Linked DNA regions of Homo sapiens. The protein of the gene in region 1 interacts with the protein of each later gene in a pairwise test. Each region holds a gene or a part of one and is shown in the gene's direction. Other genes may lie near its edges.

Evidence for each region. The genes of interacting proteins can lie anywhere in the genome.
Region 2: the proteins of WT1 (region 1) and RNASEH2B interact in a two-hybrid assay, tested with the Homo sapiens proteins (one large-scale study listed by BioGRID and IntAct).

What each region holds. Positions count from the first base shown.
Region 1 is NC_000011.10:32,387,275-32,390,539, reverse strand, and holds the end of WT1 (Wilms tumor protein), read left to right. Parts: intron 1-1,360; coding exon 1,361-1,482; 3' UTR 1,483-2,765; downstream 2,766-3,265. UniProt on the Homo sapiens protein: Transcription factor that plays an important role in cellular development and cell survival. Recognizes and binds to the DNA sequence 5'-GCG(T/G)GGGCG-3'. Regulates the expression of numerous target genes, including EPO.
Region 2 is NC_000013.11:50,951,291-50,954,790, forward strand, and holds part of RNASEH2B (ribonuclease H2 subunit B), read left to right. Parts: exon of another isoform or gene 1-2,614; coding exon 2,615-2,695; intron 2,696-3,500. UniProt on the Homo sapiens protein: Non catalytic subunit of RNase H2, an endonuclease that specifically degrades the RNA of RNA:DNA hybrids. Participates in DNA replication, possibly by mediating the removal of lagging-strand Okazaki fragment RNA primers during DNA replication.

The sequences.
Region 1 (3,265 bases):
CTGCATTTAAAAACAGAGCCAAGGCACCTGTGGCCCATGGTTGGCAGGATGGGATCTTGCTTCCCTTCCTCAGGTGCCTTTGATGCTTCTTTAACTTAGTCCTGAGCTCATAATTCGGTGGCAAAGTGTTATAGTCCCTTTGACACGGCTGTCACACTCCCCAAGTAAGTGTGACATGACCTGTTTTGCCAGCAGACTGTTTAATACCACATTTGATTGGCCTCCAGTCTGACCCTGGGACACCAGCCCTCCTGGGACATTTCTCAGTGCTTGTCCAAACCAGTAGTTCTCAGAGAAGGCCAAGTGGGACCAGCAGTATCTGAGAAGATCCGTCAGGTGGCACAGGGTTTAGCTTCTGTGCATTCTTCCTTAAGATGGAGCTGCAGCTGCTTTTCCATCATGGCTAGGCCTGGGAGGTGTGATACAGGGAAGAGCACGGGCTCTGGAATTCGACAGACCTGGAGATTTGAGTTCTGCCTGGATCTGCCCTCAATAGATGTCCTACCTCATCTGTAGAGTGGGGATAATAACGCTTCCCCTACGGGCAGTTGTAAGGAGTACATGAGGTTGTGTGTGTGCGTGTGTGAAGCCCAGCACAAGGCTTGGCATATGTTAAGCATCAAATAAATGGTAGTTATTCTCCCTAATGAGAATGAGGCTTGGAAAGAATGTCTGAGGGCTCTTTGGGTGGAGAAGCCTCAATCTTTTGGCAAGCTTATTAAAAATCTAAGAACCACGCCCCAACTAGAATCTTCCATATAACAGGATTATGCTCTCAGTAACACTTTAAGAGAAAAAAAAAAACAACACATAACATGTAAACTGGTATCAGTGATTTATTTTAAAGTATCCAGCCCATCCAGGGTATCTACACAGATAGAAGTGTTAAAAGCTTCAGTCACAGCTGAGATCCCTGGACAGTGATCACTCAGTAATACCCAGGGTAGATGACCCAGAGGCTTCTGCAGCCCAGTTCATCTCAGTTCCCAACTTACTCAACAAGGGGGAGAAATTTACACAGTTCACAAAACATTCTATCAGCAGAGACTGAAACAAACGTTTTTCCCCTTAATTATGAATTGCTCAGACATTTCCCCCAACTTGACTCATTCTTTATCTCCCACTTTCCAAGTTTTCTGACCTAAGAATATAACTTTTTACAATATTTCGATCCTTAAAGCCCCAAGAGGTGCTGCTGTTTCAAGGCTGCCTGGGAAATGAGCTCAGTTGGTTAGCTCAGGGACAGAATGATGGGAAATTCAGAGTGGGTGCCTTGTGATGACTTCACTCGGGCCTTGATAGTTGAACTTGTGCCTGTCTCTTTGTTGCAAGTGTCTCTGACTGGCAATTGTGTCAACAGGTGAAAAGCCCTTCAGCTGTCGGTGGCCAAGTTGTCAGAAAAAGTTTGCCCGGTCAGATGAATTAGTCCGCCATCACAACATGCATCAGAGAAACATGACCAAACTCCAGCTGGCGCTTTGAGGGGTCTCCCTCGGGGACCGTTCAGTGTCCCAGGCAGCACAGTGTGTGAACTGCTTTCAAGTCTGACTCTCCACTCCTCCTCACTAAAAAGGAAACTTCAGTTGATCTTCTTCATCCAACTTCCAAGACAAGATACCGGTGCTTCTGGAAACTACCAGGTGTGCCTGGAAGAGTTGGTCTCTGCCCTGCCTACTTTTAGTTGACTCACAGGCCCTGGAGAAGCAGCTAACAATGTCTGGTTAGTTAAAAGCCCATTGCCATTTGGTGTGGATTTTCTACTGTAAGAAGAGCCATAGCTGATCATGTCCCCCTGACCCTTCCCTTCTTTTTTTATGCTCGTTTTCGCTGGGGATGGAATTATTGTACCATTTTCTATCATGGAATATTTATAGGCCAGGGCATGTGTATGTGTCTGCTAATGTAAACTTTGTCATGGTTTCCATTTACTAACAGCAACAGCAAGAAATAAATCAGAGAGCAAGGCATCGGGGGTGAATCTTGTCTAACATTCCCGAGGTCAGCCAGGCTGCTAACCTGGAAAGCAGGATGTAGTTCTGCCAGGCAACTTTTAAAGCTCATGCATTTCAAGCAGCTGAAGAAAAAATCAGAACTAACCAGTACCTCTGTATAGAAATCTAAAAGAATTTTACCATTCAGTTAATTCAATGTGAACACTGGCACACTGCTCTTAAGAAACTATGAAGATCTGAGATTTTTTTGTGTATGTTTTTGACTCTTTTGAGTGGTAATCATATGTGTCTTTATAGATGTACATACCTCCTTGCACAAATGGAGGGGAATTCATTTTCATCACTGGGAGTGTCCTTAGTGTATAAAAACCATGCTGGTATATGGCTTCAAGTTGTAAAAATGAAAGTGACTTTAAAAGAAAATAGGGGATGGTCCAGGATCTCCACTGATAAGACTGTTTTTAAGTAACTTAAGGACCTTTGGGTCTACAAGTATATGTGAAAAAAATGAGACTTACTGGGTGAGGAAATCCATTGTTTAAAGATGGTCGTGTGTGTGTGTGTGTGTGTGTGTGTGTGTGTGTTGTGTTGTGTTTTGTTTTTTAAGGGAGGGAATTTATTATTTACCGTTGCTTGAAATTACTGTGTAAATATATGTCTGATAATGATTTGCTCTTTGACAACTAAAATTAGGACTGTATAAGTACTAGATGCATCACTGGGTGTTGATCTTACAAGATATTGATGATAACACTTAAAATTGTAACCTGCATTTTTCACTTTGCTCTCAATTAAAGTCTATTCAAAAGGAAAGTGGCAAGATTCCATCAGCTGTATTGTGTTCAAATCTCAAGGCCACTGAGCCTCTTTTAAACAGGTAAGAGAAGACGCCACCGACATCGACGGCTACTAGTGAGCCTATCCAGGTCCTGACCACAATTTATTTCTCTCTGTCAAACTTCAGGAGGGACTTATATGTCCTAGAAGCAACAGAGAATATCTTCACCTTGTGTTACAGAGTGATTGTGCTCATGCTGTGGTTGAATGGGGTTTGTGGATGATGTGGTGATTATGTTTTAAGGTTTTAAGGTTTATTTTAAGCAGATTGTCATTGCATCCCATCATCCCAGATCAGCAAAAGAAAATAGAGAGATGTTAATGACAACTAGTCCTTTTGAAAAGTTCAGATACATCACTGGGAGGGCATAGGCTGAACACCTAGTACAATTGAATTTACAGCTGTACTTGCTATAAATCAGCTCAGCAGATTGAAAACTGCTCAGCCTTTCCAGGGCAACTGAGTGTGAAAGCAA
Region 2 (3,500 bases), on another chromosome or scaffold:
GTCTGTATCCAGGATTTGATTGATTTTTACAGTAATATAGTTGACTGTTTCCAGGAAATATATTCCAGTAGTCATTAGGTATCTTTGTATCTATGTTGTAATCGATAGCGTGGAGCCTGTCATCTTTAATATGTTTTATATTATTTTCCTTTACTATCATATGTCTGCCTTTGTTGAAACTCAGCTTCCAACCCTCACTTGCTCCAGTCTTTTCAATTTGTCACTGTCAGCAAGCAGAGTTGAATGCAACCAGTGGGTTTGGAGATGTTCCCGAGTTCCTTCTTGCAAATCATTTGTAAGAAGGCCTAACATTATCCCTGTGGTACTCTGCAGTTTGTTCTCTTTCCAGAACTGTATCCATTTAGTCATAGCCTTTGTTACTGTCTTTCTGAGCCACTTCTCTGCTGAAACAATCTCCCAAATCCATAGGGATTTGGTCTTTTAAATAACAAAAATTTTAGTAAATGCTTCAATCATCTTTTTTTCCAATATATTCAACAGTGCACTGGGAATAACATACAAACTAGTTATATGTAGAGGCTACCACAATCATTTTCTTTTTTTAAACACTTGTAACTGGTATCTTGTTTTGTTGTGAGCTATTAAAACACCTGAACAAGTCATTTCTCCAATTAAACATTTTATGTCCATACAAAAGTACCTTTCATCTTAAGTTCTTGTAATGAACACTTTTTATTTGAATTATCAATGAAAAGTGAACCTCATCAGTTCAGTGGCACACACTTGTAGTCTTAGCTACTCAGGAGGCTAAGGCAGAAGGTCGCTTGAGCCCAGGAGTTCAAGGCTGTAGTATATGATGATCGCAACTATGAATAGCCACCGCACTCCAGCCTGGGCAACACAGTGAAACCCTGTCTCTAAAGAAAAAAAGGGAATAATGTCTAAGTGTTTATAATGACATCTGTGTTAGGAACATTTTGCCATAGAGAAGGAACACAAGCATCCTCATAACTTCAAGCTTTTTGTGTTTTGAAAATATTTTGGCCTTCAGCATTATTAGCTGTGAGTTTCACCCTCCTAGCTGAAGATACCTTTCTAGTAAAAAATGTGCATCACCTAAACACCCTTTGCTGTCTTAATTTAAATAGAAACATGTATTTTTTTTTTTGAGACAGAGTCTTGCCGTGTCATCTAGGCTGGAGTGCAGTGGCACAATCTCAGCTTACTGCAGTCTCTGCTTCTCAGGTTCAAGCAATTCTTGTGCCTCAGTCTCCGGAGTAGCTGGGACTACAGGCACATGCCACCATGCGCAGCTAATTTTTATATTTTTATTAGAGATGGGGTTTTGCCATGTTGGCCAGGCTGATCTCCAACTCCTGGCCTCAAGTGACCGCCCACCTCGGCCTCCCAAAGTGCTGGGATTACAGGCATGAGTCACTGCACCAAGCTGAAACATATATTCTTAACAAAGTTGCAAATATACATTCACTTGGTGCTGATAGGTGGTTCATTTGTGATGGATTAGTCTTTTTCTTTTAATGATTCATTTGCTAGAGGTTGCTGTGTGGCCAAGAGGTTTTCCTATAGTGTGTGGTATATTCCCAGGATGAGCCTCTGTTTTTTTACAGCAAACAATTTTAAGACATGGTGTTTTATCCTCTTGGGTTATGGGATAAAACACCATGGGCTGTGGAATCTTTTAGCACCAACTCTACCCGTTCTTTGTTTAGCAAAGCAGGGGCATGAAGAATGAAGCTGGGAAGAAGTCTGTTTCCTAGGTTAGATCCATGTTGGGTCTGGTCAACCTGGTGTCTCCATAAACAGCCTGAAAATTATAAAAATCTGGGTTGTGATCACCATGCAGTCAATTCTCCATGTTCAACAGCAAGACTTGTCTTCCCTGCTTTTGTACCTTTTACATAATAAGTGTGGCATGATTTCTTCTATATTGTGATCATTAAGGCCTTGACAAGATTCTCACATTCACTGGTGTAAAATGTTCATGTGAAAGGAGAAAATATTAAGTAAAGGTCTGACTTAGTTGCATTGGGCCTAATGGAAAGAACACTGTATCAGAATTGAAATCTTGGCCAAAGTCCTCTACTTGGTGACCTTAAGCTATTCATTTAGCCTCTCTGTGCTTCCCTCTCTTACTGGCTGCTTGCTTGTGCAAGGTTGTTCTTGCATGGATAAAGTAAGATAAATATTGTCCCTTCATTCATAAGTGGACATTAAACTGGCCCAGGAGGTAAATGAAATAGGGATTCTGGCTGGACACCTGGCCCCCTTCAAGAGACTATTCTCATTTTGACTTCTGTGCCTTGCATTCATCTGGTAATTAGCAATCCCCTCATGCCCACCACACCTGGCACCTACAAAGCCTGTGTTTGCTGGACCAGCTAAGGGGCTCAGCCATGTACTTACCCAATCATATCCACCATCACCAAGGCTGCTTCTTAGGAGTGATGTGTGGCTCAATTCCCTAGATGATTGGCAAAATGTAAAGGAGCCTGTAAAAAGTAAGCCCTTTGCTGGGTCTGCTGTCCCATTCGCCTCTGTAGAGGTCTAAATTATACATGTTGGGTTTTTTTTTAATGGATTGATGTTGTGTCAAAGTGACATTTGACACCACTTCACTGCTCTAATGTTGCAGAAAATAAAGTTATCAGATGAGCCTGTAGAAGCAAAAGAAGATTACACTAAGTTTAATACTAAAGATTTGAAGACTGAAAAGGTATGTGGGTTCAGGTGTAGTGGTGTTTCGTTCATACTCAGTGCGTGATGTGCATGAATACATGAGGAACAGTTGCACGCTTGATTGTGATTACAGTTTTGACCAGGAAGAATTATTAACTTGCATTTCTGTGACTTAATAATTAAGAATTGCATATGACAATGAAAATGTTAAGCAACTAAGACTTATTATTAGTCAGAGAAAAACAATATACTACTTATCAAGAGTGTGCCTAAATTTTGCTATGTATTCATAGAGTGATAGGGTGGGAAAGGAGGGAGGAAGCTCTACAGGTAATTTTTTGTCAACCCTGCTGCCCAGAAGCAGAAATTATGATGATAAAAATTAATAATTTCACCATTCAGCATTCACCCTGGCAAATGGCATTTTGGTAACAGTCCTTACTTAGTTTTATACATGCATTATAAATACATATGTGGCCTTTAACATTGGCATTATAATACTCAGTTCTGGGCTTTTTATTTAACATTAAATTGTGAAAATGTTCACATATCATTAAACATTCTTTGAAAAAATATTCATGTTTTTATGATATTCAGTCATGGGTGTTTGTTTCACCATATGGAATGTAATTTAATCATTTCCCTATATTTGGACATATAGGTTACTTCTGATTTTTTTATTTTTTGTTTTTATTGAAGTGATAGACATTCTTATTTACAGTCTGTATCTCCAATCATTTCATTAGACACAATTTTGAACTAAGACTAAGAGCTTGGAGAACATGAATTCTTTCATAATTGAAATATATATAGCTAAAGTGCTTTTCAAAAATGGAGAAAGT